2 separate regions of the Homo sapiens genome follow, and region 1 is linked to region 2. The links come from fine-mapping of genetic effects on gene expression. A gene starts in region 2. The other region holds a variant in brackets. All regions are shown on one strand. Distances are between the middles of the regions.

The links.
Region 1: its variant is fine-mapped to the expression of BET1L in cerebral cortex (GTEx, PIP above 0.99).

Annotation. Positions count from the first base shown.
Region 1 is chr11:185,784-188,695 of GRCh38, reverse strand. It overlaps a transcript of SCGB1C1 not described here. Among named protein-coding and RNA genes, the nearest start is that of SCGB1C1, 5.8 kb to the left of the region's middle. The variant G/A (reference allele first, on the strand shown) is at 1,314.
Region 2 is chr11:206,004-208,880 of GRCh38, reverse strand. It overlaps BET1L (Bet1 golgi vesicular membrane trafficking protein like), which reads left to right and starts at 1,482. Exons shown (of 4, transcript NM_001098787.2): 1 at 1,482-1,578; 2 at 2,838-2,877. The coding sequence starts at 1,560. RIC8A (RIC8 guanine nucleotide exchange factor A) reads right to left here and starts at 1,173. Exons shown (of 10, transcript NM_001286134.2): 1 at 1-1,173. The coding sequence starts at 26. RefSeq lists silencers at 1-260, 261-459, 1,521-1,640, 1,751-1,810 and enhancers at 1-586, 562-731, 587-1,208, 1,755-2,256, 2,567-2,877.

The sequences.
Region 1 (2,912 bases), 20 kb after region 2:
CAGATGGTCCTGGGGCCTTTTTCCACTGGGAGATCTTTAAGGACCTTTCTTAGCTTTTCTATGCTAATTGGTATATTCATAGTTGCCTTATTTCAGGGCCCATTTTGTTAATGTGTATTTTTACTAGGAAATCACCCATTTTTTCTAGGTTTCCAGTTTGATGCAATTATTTGACTTTTAATTTCTCCTCTGTTTTTAGTTTTGTACATAATTTTCCTATCTACTTTTGCACTCTTTTTTCCATCAACAATATTTTTAAAATATACTTTTTAGCTTTTTTTGAAGAATTGTTATGTTTGACAATTTTTTATGACCTAATCATGACCGTAAATGATTTTTAATTAATTTCAGCTTAATGTCTTTTGTAGGGCACAACTGTTAAAATACAGAATTACAACAAATGTGGGTTTGCAGATCTTAATTGGCTTTTTTTTGTGGTTCTAGAATCAGGCAGCAGTCCAGACCAAAAATGGTTCAGAATGATCTGCCACACAACATGTGCGGGTTATATTTATAGCCAGAGGAAAAAAGTGACATACAGAAAACAGAAGTGAGGTATAGAGGTGGCTGGATTGGTTACAGACCTGGTTACAGCCCGGATTTGCCTTCTTGGAACTTGTTTTGAACAGCTGGCTGCCGGCCATTGACTGACACTCGGCTGATGTGATTGGCTGAACCGCCGCTATTTGTTACCATGATACATTCCCAAGTCAGATTTTCAGTTTGTTTCTATACTAAATTAGGTTGCGATTCTTCTTGTTCTTCTTCTTTTTTCTTTTTTGAGGCGGAGTCTCGCTCTGTCGCCCAGGCTGGAGTGCAGTGGCGCGATCTCAGCTCACAGCAAGCTCCGCCTCCCAGGTTCACGCCATTCTCCTGTCCCGGCCTCCCGAGTAGCTGGGACTGCAGGCTGCCGCCACCAAGCCCGGCTAATTTTTTTGTATTTTTTTTTTTTAGTAGAGACTGGGTTTCACCTTGTAAGCCATGATGGTCTCGATTTCCTGACCTCATGAGCCACCCGTCTCGGCCTCCCAAAGTGCTGGGATTACAGGCGTGAGCCACGGCGCCCGGCCGCGACTCTTTACAAGGACTCCTCGGGAGGCTTCCAGAGCCCAAATGTTGTTTGATGTAAGAATTCCTCCCTTTTGGTCAGCCTCTCAATTTTGAGATATTGATCAAAACTTTGGGCATTGGTGTCACTCTTTGTTGTCGTTGTAAATTGAGTTATTAGGACTTATTTGCTTTCAGTGTGGCATTTTCAAGTTTTATTTGGTCTCAGTGCCCTCTGGGCAATAGCAGAACACTGTGTTGTGTAA[G/A]GCGGAAATAGAGCAATAGAAAATAACAACTGATTTGTTAATATCAGATTACTTCAAGTTACTTGTTTTGGTAAGAATTAAAGCAGAGGGGACTTCTTTATGCTGACTCAGGTAGACTGGAATCTCTTCAGGGAAAAAGGGAGCTCTTTTGGGATCTATCTACTTCCTTAGAGTTTCAGCTTCGTTGTGTGTCATTCAGCGTGAGTGTCTCCATTCTGATTTTGCCTGCTCAGTGTGGCCTAGTGCGGGAGTGGTGACCGAAACAATGACCTCCCGTAGTTTGTTCCACAGTTCTCCCCTTTTGGTTGGGTTCCTGCCTAGGTGAGGGTGTGACTAAAACCTTAGGGCATTAGCGGTATTCTCAGTAACTATCATTTTAGGTTTCCGGTCTTAGGGCATTAGCACTATTCTCAGTAACTATCATTTTAGGGTTCCGGTCTTAGGGCATTAGCACTATTCTCAGTGACTATCATTTTAGGGTTCCGGTCTTAGGACATTAGCGGTATTCTCAGTAACTATCATTTTAGGGTTCCGGTCTTAGGGCATTAGCGGTATTCTCAGTAACTATCATTTTAGGGTTCCGGTCTTAGGGCATTAGCGGTATTCTCAGTAACTATCATTTTAGGGTTCCGGTCTTAGGGCATTAGCACTATTCTCAGTAACTATCATTTTAGGGTTCCGGTCTTAGGGCATTAGCGGTATTCTCAGTAACTATCATTTTAGGGTTCCGGTCTTAGGGCATTAGCGGTATTCTCAGTAACTATCATTTTAGGGTTCCAGTCTTAGGGCATTAGCAGTATTCTCAGTGACTATCATTTTAGGGTTCCGGTCTTAGGGCATTAGCACTATTCTCAGTAACTATCATTTTAGGGTTCTGGTCTTAGGGCATTAGCAGTATTCTCAGTGACTATCATTTTAGGTTTCCGGTCTTACGGCATTAGCGGTATTCTCAGTAACTATCATTTTAGGGTTCCGGTGTTAGGGCATTAGCACTATTCTCAGTAACTATCATTTTAGGGTTCCGGTCTTAGGGCATTAGCAGTATTCTCAGTAACTACCATTTTAGGGTTCCGGTCTTAGGGCATTAGCACTATTCTCAGTAACTATCATTTTAGGGTTCCGGTCTTAGGGCATTAGCAGTATTCTCAGTAACTATCATTTTAGGTTTCCGGTCTCAACACATCATTTAAGAAGTCAGTAAAGCTTTCTTCTACTGTGACAGCATATTTAATACTGAGAAAGAAAAGAAAATTTTTATCTTGCGAATGTGAGCTTCCTCTAAATTATCAGGTCCAGAGAGGCGTGGGAATGAGGCAGCAGTCACGTCCCATTTCCCTCTTAGCTAAGTAATCATATCTTGAAGCTGCTTGCTATGTAGACTAGACTGACTGTCATCAGCTATAGATTAACCTAAGAGTGTCTTTGAATATTTTTTCCAGTGGCAAATATTTGCTTCTGTTGTATCGTAGCTGAAAGGAATGCTGGGAAACAAAATAAAGACAAGCATTCATTAGAATAAGTGATCCAGTCACAATGAATCAATTTGAACTTTTTTTTTTTTCACAAAGTCATACTTTGAAAACTTCCAGCCGTAAATTG
Region 2 (2,877 bases):
GCTTCTGCAACCGCCCGGGGCTCCATGGCGCGCCGGGGAAGGCGGGACGGGCCCTTCCTCAGCCGTTCCGGGCCGCAGTTCGCCGGCCCCGCCCTGGCCCAGAAAGCCCCGCGCCAGCGCGCGGGGGAGGCCGGGACGGGGCGCGGCGTCTGGTGGCGCTTTAACGGGGCGCAGCGTCTGGTGGCGCTTTAAGGGGGCGCGGCCTGAGGCAGAACTGGCGGCTCGGAGGTTTTAAGACCCGAGTCGAGGGGCTGAGTCGCTCTGAACCGAACTGACCCCTCTCCTTGTGACCCGCGCTTCTTGGGCCAGAAGTTCCAACAGGAAACGATCTCAGCCCCCACCGTGCCCTGCCACACACACAGTGACGCCCCTCGAGCTCCACAGAACCGATGGGATGTAGAGGGGAAAGCCGAAGTGGAAAGGAATTTTCAGTCCTGGGCCATTGGGTTCGTTAGGCGTTTGCTGGGGAATGCAGGCGAACGGGATTCCCAGGTCCCTGCCTTTGTGGAGCTTATGTTCCAGAGGGGAAGGGGGACAAGGAAAAACAAAAGGACACGAGGCGGTCACAGGGCTGTGCTTCAAAAGAAGCAAAAGGCGACTGCTGGGCTGCAACGGGCTGTGAGGAAGTGCTGTTTTTGCTGACACCGGACGGTGGGAAGTGAGCCGGGAAAAGACTGGAGGAGCCACTCCAGGCAGAAGGAGCAGCACTTGCAAAGGTGGAGGGGCCGAGAGAAAGGGGAGCAACCCAGTCTGGCCTGGACTCAGTTCCCTCTTGAAAAGCAAAGATCCTGCGTGTCCGTTTCAGTGGCCGTCATGAGGATTCAGTGACGCACAGGAAGCGCGATCCACTCGCTCTTCTAACAAGTGCCCGGGAGCAAAGGCGTCTACGGCCCCCAGTCCCCGCGCCGCCTCCCAGTCTCTCTCCCGGCTTCACTTTCCTGTAGTGCGTTCTGTACGGCTGTATTCGACGCGGCGCGCACTCGCAGGCACGAGCGAGGCGCCGATCTCCACTTGACAGAGGAGGCACCCCTGCCCCCACCACACCCAGTGCTCCTCGCGGGCTTCTGCCCGAGGGGTCTGCTCCTTCCTCATGACCCGCCTGTGAATCCTTCCTAACCGTTAGGACCTAACCCACAGAAGCGTCTTTCCACCACCATCGTCTAGGCACTGAGCAAGCAAACGGCCCCGCCCCGCCCCACGTTCACAGGAACACCAAACGTCACATCCGCGGTGCTGCTGTAATCCCAGCACCTTGGGAGCCCGGCAGGCGGGGGCTGCAGTGAGCTGAGATCGCGCCACTGTCTGCGCGACAGTGCTGAAAATAAGCCACAGATATGCCCATCGCTTCCGCGCCCGGCAGTTCCCCACCCTCGGCCCTAAGCCGGAAGTCAGCGAGCCCGAAGCGGAAGGGGCTGGGCTATCTAGGGGCGTGGTCGGTGCGGAGGCGGGGCCATCGCTAGCTGGGGGCGGGGCCGGAAGCTCTTTCCCCGCGACTGCGCCACGTCTGAGGCGGCTGTGGCCGCGTCGGTGTCCGCGTCGAGGAGCCGGGGCAGGGCACGATGGCGGACTGGGCTCGGGGTGAGCGCGGGAGAGCGGAGCCGTTGGGGGCAGGGCCGGGCCGAAACCGACGCCGCTGCCTGTAGAGCCGCGTGCGCCTGCCTCTGGCCCAGCTGGGGTGACCTCGGCCGAGAGGACCCTGTCAGGGGGGCGGATTCGGATCCTTCCGGGTCCGAGCAGGGCCGGGTTTCGGCCGGCACTGCCGTTAGGACCGAAGGCGCGCGTGGCGGCCCAGCAGCTCCAGCGAGGGGTCGCGCAGCAGCGGGGTCTCCCCACTCCCCGCCGCCCCCTGTGAGATCGTTCTGCATGGGTTCGGGGTGAGCGGGAGTCGGCATTCGACAGGTCCCGAGGCCAGGCCCTAGGAGTAGAGGCTGTGCTCCGCTGGTGTCCAAGCAGGACTCTTACTTTGGCCTCGGTGGCCCCATTTCCCCTCCTGGAGCCCGTGTTCTTGTCTGCAAAGTGGGATATTGATGCCTGTCTCTGTGAGGTGTTATGATGATTAAAGGAATTTATAAATATGAAGTGGCTGGAAGGACGCTGGCATCCCTTCCTGACACTGAAGCTAGGGAGGAGGTGGTTCTCACGCACCTGATGTGACAGAACTTCCTTATCCCCTGGCCCAGCCTGTCACAGGCCAGGCCTCTGCGAGCACTCTGCCCTGGGTGTTGCAGGAAGCCCCATGCGGGATGCAGACCAAGGATCCCGCTCCTGGTCGACCTCAGCTCCCGTCTCGGGGAAATTGGGAACTTTGCTCAGCCATTTTCTGTGCGGTAAAGGGCCTTCCCAATGTTCTGTCCTGGTTCCTTGCCACCTCTTCAGGACCTAGCTCAAAGGTCGTCTCTGCAGGAGCCTTTCTGCTGCCTTGCTGGGTACTTTTCCCAAGTCTTTTCTATGCTCTTAGCAGAGTTTACTCTTTTTCTATAAGAATGGGCTCCACATACACAGATGGTGACCTCCCTGGATGCAAGTGTCACATCATACTAGCACCCCAGGGCTGGGTCCAGTTTTTGCTACACAGTCTCAGAAGGTGCTGGTTGGACCGAACCCATTGTGGGTGCTTGCCCATCCCCACCTTGATGTGTACACAGGACATGTGTTCACATGACAGGCCCTTACACACATCGTCCTTTATGCAGCCTGTCTCATGTGCAAGATTCACCTGCTGGAACCTTGGTTAGGGCCCCCTAGATTTCTGACTCACCCAGATGTGGTTGGAGTGAGAGGGGTCAGGGGCCGTGCTCACCGATGGATGCAACCCTTCAGCCCCTCTCTTTTCTCAGCTCAGAGCCCGGGCGCTGTGGAAGAGATTCTAGACCGGGA